2 separate regions of the Homo sapiens genome follow, and region 1 is reported to be linked to region 2. The links are microRNA targets in miRTarBase. Many come from high-throughput screens and were not tested one by one. Region 2 holds a microRNA gene; the other region holds the end of a gene's coding sequence.
The links. Region 2 holds the annotated microRNA hsa-miR-4769-3p (UCUGCCAUCCUCCCUCCCCUAC, at 2,422-2,443, opposite strand). A microRNA usually pairs through its seed, bases 2 to 8, with sites in the 3' UTR of a target mRNA and lowers its output. Matches are read on the target gene's strand: a 7mer-m8 pairs with bases 2 to 8, a 7mer-A1 pairs with bases 2 to 7 and ends in A, and an 8mer does both.

Region 1 (3,389 bases), not on the chromosome of region 2:
CAGCTCCCCGCCCACTCTGCCCAAGCAGAAGTGAGCCCCTCCTGGGCAGAAAGTGCCCGCAATGAGGGCTGAAATGTTTCTATTCCCTGAGTAACCAACCTTTCTCTGTTTCCTTGTCCAGGAAACGGAGGTGGAGCTGTACAACGAATTTCCTGAACCTATCAAACTGGACAAGAATGACCGGGCCAAGGCCTCGGCAGAAAGCTGCAGTTGCTGAGGGGGCAGTGAGAGTTGAGCACAGAGTCCTTCACAAACCAAGAACACACGTAGGCCTTCAACACAATTCCCCTCTCCTCTTCCAAACAAAACATACATTGATCTCTCACATCCAGCTGCCAAAAGAAAACCCCATCAAACACAGTTACACCCCACATATCTCTCACACACACACACACACGCACACACACACACACAGATCTGACGTAATCAAACTCCAGCCCTTGCCCGTGATGGCTCCTTGGGGTCTGCCTGCCCACCCACATGAGCCCGCGAGTATGGCAGCAGGACAAGCCAGCGGTGGAAGTCATTCTGATATGGAGTTGGCATTGGAAGCTTATTCTTTTTGTTCACTGGAGAGAGAGAGAACTGTTTACAGTTAATCTGTGTCTAATTATCTGATTTTTTTTATTGGTCTTGTGGTCTTTTTACCCCCCCTTTCCCCTCCCTCCTTGAAGGCTACCCCTTGGGAAGGCTGGTGCCCCATGCCCCATTACAGGCTCACACCCAGTCTGATCAGGCTGAGTTTTGTATGTATCTATCTGTTAATGCTTGTTACTTTTAACTAATCAGATCTTTTTACAGTATCCATTTATTATGTAATGCTTCTTAGAAAAGAATCTTATAGTACATGTTAATATATGCAACCAATTAAAATGTATAAATTAGTGTAAGAAATTCTTGGATTATGTGTTTAAGTCCTGTAATGCAGGCCTGTAAGGTGGAGGGTTGAACCCTGTTTGGATTGCAGAGTGTTACTCAGAATTGGGAAATCCAGCTAGCGGCAGTATTCTGTACAGTAGACACAAGAATTATGTACGCCTTTTATCAAAGACTTAAGAGCCAAAAAGCTTTTCATCTCTCCAGGGGGAAAACTGTCTAGTTCCCTTCTGTGTCTAAATTTTCCAAAACGTTGATTTGCATAATACAGTGGTATGTGCAATGGATAAATTGCCGTTATTTCAAAAATTAAAATTCTCATTTTCTTTCTTTTTTTTCCCCCCTGCTCCACACTTCAAAACTCCCGTTAGATCAGCATTCTACTACAAGAGTGAAAGGAAAACCCTAACAGATCTGTCCTAGTGATTTTACCTTTGTTCTAGAAGGCGCTCCTTTCAGGGTTGTGGTATTCTTAGGTTAGCGGAGCTTTTTCCTCTTTTCCCCACCCATCTCCCCAATATTGCCCATTATTAATTAACCTCTTTCTTTGGTTGGAACCCTGGCAGTTCTGCTCCCTTCCTAGGATCTGCCCCTGCATTGTAGCTTGCTTAACGGAGCACTTCTCCTTTTTCCAAAGGTCTACATTCTAGGGTGTGGGCTGAGTTCTTCTGTAAAGAGATGAACGCAATGCCAATAAAATTGAACAAGAACAATGATCATCTGCCTTTGCCAGAGTCTTTTTTTCCTTCTTCAAGAGCCTTGGCTCAGTAGAGACCACATGAGCTAATCATAGTCAATGCCTTATCAAGCAAGAGAGCCCTCCATAAATGGGCACGTGTGGTGCTTCAAGGCAGAAAGGCCCTCTCATATCTGGTCCTGTAGTGCCTGTCCCTAGTTTTTTTTTGTTTGTTTTTTTTTCCGGGGGCGGGGGTGGGTGTATTTTAATCACATTGTTGGAGGTTGAGGACCATGGATGGAGAACGCATTGTCCCTTTAGGAGAGCAGCCAGAAACTGCTGGGGACTCTGAGCCATGCATATCCTGTAGGTGTAACTGTAACCTAGTCATGTGTTATGTGTTTTATTTTTAGTTGACCTAGTTGCTAACACTTAGATGTGTAATTCTGCATTTGTCACAGGAGAGGAAGATTTGGCAGCAGAGGCCCTGTATTCCAACATATGTAAGCCCCCACCTGGAATGGAATAGTTGCCACTTAGAAGCAATTTTATTAAAATAGTAGTAGTTCAGGTCGTGAGTCACTTTAGGTTTTGCAGAAGTGCCTCATTGAGTTAGATCTTGAATTCTACTTTGCTACACTTTTCTACATTTCCACTTCTCAGGCTCCTCAGCTGGTTTCTTTCCTCGTGGCTCCTCTTGGCATGTACTTTATGTGTTAAAAATAGCATAGTTTAGAAGTTCAGATGCTGCACAATGTGAGATTATCCACAGTGCAATTCCACCCTGGCTGGGTGGCTTAAATCTTCTCTGGTCCTATATTTTGCTTGGGCCTCATCAGGTGTTTGTCCTCTAGAGGAGCAGAGTTCTCTCCAGCTTGGGGCCCAGTGACTGGGCCACAGGGTGTGGACCCTTGTGTGATGCTCACCTCTGCAAATCAGGCATCTATTCCTCTGATTGTGTTCCACTGGTCTTGACCTTGTATGTGACATTAAAATGGACCTTGACTTCTGACCTGCTTGACCTTCATCCTAAAACTGATGATCATCCTGATATTAACCTGCTTTAGCTTGAGATGAATGTAATCTTTAATTGACTGATTTCAACCATTGTCCTTATCATAACTTACCCTAATTTTAATGGCTTTGGCTTTGAACTGGCTTTGACTTTACCCTAAACACGTTCACTGCTGAATGACCTTGACTCTGACCCACCTCCTGACCCTAATCATCACCTGACTTTGAAGTTAACATGGAACCCTACCATGACAATAGGTCTTACTCTCTGACCTGGGACTAATTAGTCTCATGTCCCATCAGCCTGATGGCTGAGCTTGGTGTCATATTTTAACCCTAAATTGTATAATGTTCATCTAAGGGATTCAGCTTAACCACAATAGGGAGCCATGGCTGAGACTGAGCTCTGCATCAACACAGTGCCTTTTTCTTTTTTTTATTTTTTTATTTTATTTTATTTATTTATTTATTTATTTTTGATCATTCTTGGGTGTTTCTCAGAGGGGGATTTGGCAGGGTCATAGGACAATAGTGGAGGGAAGGTCAGCAGATAAACAAGTGAACAAAGGTCTCTGGTTTTCCTAGGCAGAGGACCCTGCGGCCTTCCGCAGCATTTGTGTCCCTGGGTACTTGAGATTAGGGAGTGGTGATGACTCTTAATGCTCATTAAGAGTCATCACAGTGCCTTTTTCTATATTCCTATTTAGATTCAGCATAAGCATGTGTTTTCTCTCAAAAGAGGGGAACTTGTCATTTTGCTGGAATAAGCAGTAAGGATTTACTTTTGTGAAGAATATCTGGGACTGAGTTTGTCTGCAGTACT
Region 2 (3,354 bases):
TCAAACATTGTTTGCAATATTATAAATAATCACTACTAAAGTTATAAGTTATAGTTATCATAACTACTTCTAGTAACTAATGCTTGTAAGTGCTATATGCCTAGCACTGTTCCAAGTACTTCACATATACAACCTCATTTAATATGGACATTGTCTCTATGAGTTAGGCCTTCTTTTTATCCCTGTCTTACAGATGCAGGAACTGAGGCTCAAAGAGGCAATATGATTTATTCAAGGACACAGAGCTAAGACATGGCAGGGGCAAGATTTGAATGCAGATGATCTGGCTCCAGGGTTCCTGCTTTTTTTTTTTTTTTTTTTTTGAGACGGAGTCTGGCTCTGTTGCCCAGGCTGGAGTGCAGTGGCTTGATCTCAGCTCACTGCAAGCTCCGCCTCCCAGGTTCATGCCATTCTCCTGCCTCTCGAGTAGCTGGGACTACAGGCGCCCACCACCATACTCGGCTAATTTTTTTTTTTTTTGGTATTTTTAGTAGAGACAGGGTTTCACCTTGTTAGCCAGGATGGTCTCGATCTCCTGACCTCGTGATCTGCCCACCTTGGCCTCCCAAATTGCTGGGATTACAGGCGTAAGCCACCATGCCCGGCCTTTTTTTTTTTTTTTTTGAGACAGTCTTGCTCTATCCCCCAGCCTGGGGTGCAGTGGCATGATCTCAGCTCCCTGCAACTTCCGCCTCCTGGGTTCAAACGATTCTTGTGCCTCAGCCTCCCAAGTAACTGGGACCACAGGGCATGCGCCACCACAGCTGGCTAAATTTTGTATATTTAGTAGAGATGGAAACCATGTTGGCCAGGCTCGTCTTGAACTCCTGACCTCGTGATCTGCCCACCTTGGCCTCCCAAAGTGCTAGTATTACAGGCGTCAGCCACCATGACTGTCCCATTTCCTGTGTTTTGACCCCCCCAAAAATATCCAAGGGGCAAAGACACCCCGTAAACATCCTCCAACCCCACCACAGACCTCTGAAGGATTCTGGGCCAGGACTGTGACGTCCATGTTTAAACATGGCGAGAAGGACTGAGGCTCAGGTGAGAGAAGGACTGGCCCCCCAGGCTCCCCACTGAGCTGGGTCCCATGCTGAATACCACATGGCTGTGACCCCTACAAGCTTCCTCTCAGCTGTCACAGAGTCTCTCCCAGAGATTCACCCACAGACACCCCGAATGCTGGGGATGGAGGATGCTCACTTGACCTATTTTAACAGATGTTCTACAAGAGCAATGGGGGATGTAATGAGCCCAGGGTTACAGATCCTGCCAGGAGCTCATGCCAGGTCTCTGGTGGAGGTAGCCTCGTCTGCTGTTCTGGGCTCTGTGTCCCCTGAGACCTGTTCTGGTCTCCGGTCCTCCCTGTCCATTCTGCATTGCACTTGGCGAAGGGCTGACCTGCAGGGTAGACAGGTCGGCAGGAGAACGACCTCCACGCTGGGTTCCATCCTTCCCCTGCTACTTCACCTTCCCCCTAGGGCTTGGAAGAGCTGAGGACTTAGGAAATGGGCCCTGAGGCCAGGGAGCAGCTTAAGAGTGCAGGTAGCTGACACTAAGGTTTGGCGAATTGCCAGGAGCGGTCAGCCTCTTGCAGGCAGCTGAGGGAACATTGACAAGGTCACCAGGGATGAACCAGGGCTCGGGCCCTTACCTTACAGTTGTGCCCATCAGCAAAGGCTGCGGTTGGCCCCTTCGGTGGACAAGGTTCAGACCCTCCGAGGGCGTAACCAAGGTGTAGATGTTGATGTAGAAATTGTTGCTGCATGCGCATTCCCTGCTTAAGTGGCTGAGTACTGTGTGTTCAAAATCTGCCCATTCCCATCCGGGACATAATTTGGGCCGTGGGGTAACCTCCCAGGAGTGTAAAAGGCTCTGGGACAGGACCACAGAAGATCCAGGGGGCTGTGCTTGGTGACCTAGAATGCCCTGGAGGAGACCTGGGTTCTTACTGGTAAGAGCAGTGGGTACTCTGATGAGAGGGAATTTGGGGGTCCTTTTCTTTACCAAAGGAGATATATTGGGGCCCTTTTCAAGCACGTTCAGGTCAGGAGGACACAGGTGCTCCATTGAATGTTTGCACCAGTCTGAAATTCTAGTTCCCAAGGGCCTCACTTGAGTCAAGACCTTTGGAGTATGAGGGGCAGGAGCCAGGGACTGGACCCCGCTGTGGAAGCAGGAAGGCCTCAGAGGGGAGTATTTGGAGGTTCTCTCACTCAGTTTTTCTAGAGAAAGGATGATTCATAAAGGTGAGGGTCGAGTCTAGAGACCCTAGTTTGGGTGAGGGGACAGTTGGGTTGAGGGAGGTGTGTGGAGGGTATGGGCCAGCATATCTGGCTGGTCTTAATTTTGAACCCTACCTGCATTTCATTGCTGTCAGTATTTCCTTCCAAGTTGGTCAGAGGAGTGAGGGGAGAAGTAGGGGAGGGAGGATGGCAGAGCTTGGGGATTTTTAGCTCATACCTTCTCTCCATCCCACCTCTCCTCTGCCCCAAACAGTCCCTTCCAAGGAATGTCCTGCAGCCATGGCTGGGGAGCCAGGGCCACCCCTTCTTCCCAAGTCCCCAGCTGGGTTACTGTGGGACTCTGGGTGCCCTGGGTCCCCTTTCACTCAAGTCAGACTCATGGTACAAAACCTGAGGATGAGGACAGTAACACCCACGTGTTTGGATGGGGCATCCTCACTGGACAACATCAGGACTGTGCTTGAGGCAATGATAGTCATTTGCCAATTGGTAGGGCATTTGTCAATGACTCTGTCAGCTGGCAAGATGTGTGAATGGGGAATTTCCAGTAAGGCAGTGATTTGTCAGCTGTGGGATAATTTATAACTAGAAAGCCCTGGGCAAATAGCAATTAGGAATCAGTATAGGAAAATGTTTTAAAGTATTGGCTGGAGAAATTATTCAGAGGTTACGGTTGATAATGCAGGTTCAGTGACCATTGCTGCTGTTGCAGATCATCAGTGCTAATGCCAATGTTGAGAATTACTACCAGTACATCAGAATTTAAGTAAAATATAAAAACCCAACATTTGGCATCCCTCATCCCCACTGGTCCCAGGGTGCTCACACCAGGTCATCAGCAACATGGGTTTGTTCCCAGGCACTACACAGAAACAGTGTCTGCTGGGTGGTAACTCTTTATTTCATTGTCCGGAAGAAAGATGGGAGTGGGAACAGGGTGGACACTGTGCAGGCTTCAGCTTCCACTCCGGGCAGGATTCAGGCTATCTGGGACCGCAGGGACTGCCAGGTGCACAGCCCTGGCTCCCGAGGCAGGCAGGCAAGGTGACGGGACTGGAAGCCCTTTTCAGAGCCTTGGAGGAGCTGGTCCGTCCACAAGCAATGA

Region 1: the mRNA of RAB7A is a reported target of hsa-miR-4769-3p. Seed matches in the 3' UTR shown: 7mer-m8 at 495-501.

The regions. Positions count from the first base shown.
Region 1 is chr3:128,813,206-128,816,594 of GRCh38, forward strand. It overlaps RAB7A (RAB7A, member RAS oncogene family), which reads left to right. Exons shown (of 6, transcript NM_004637.6): 6 at 122-1,593. The coding sequence ends at 217. Among named protein-coding and RNA genes, the nearest start is that of MIR12124, 32 kb to the right of the region's middle. RefSeq lists an enhancer at 1-235.
Region 2 is chrX:47,586,565-47,589,918 of GRCh38, reverse strand. It overlaps MIR4769 (microRNA 4769), which reads right to left and starts at 2,490; the gene lies at 2,414-2,490. The region is part of intron 5 of SYN1 (synapsin I); the gene reads left to right. It overlaps TIMP1 (TIMP metallopeptidase inhibitor 1), which reads right to left. Exons shown (of 6, transcript NM_003254.3): 6 at 3,130-3,354. The coding sequence ends at 3,228. RefSeq lists a silencer at 2,335-2,629.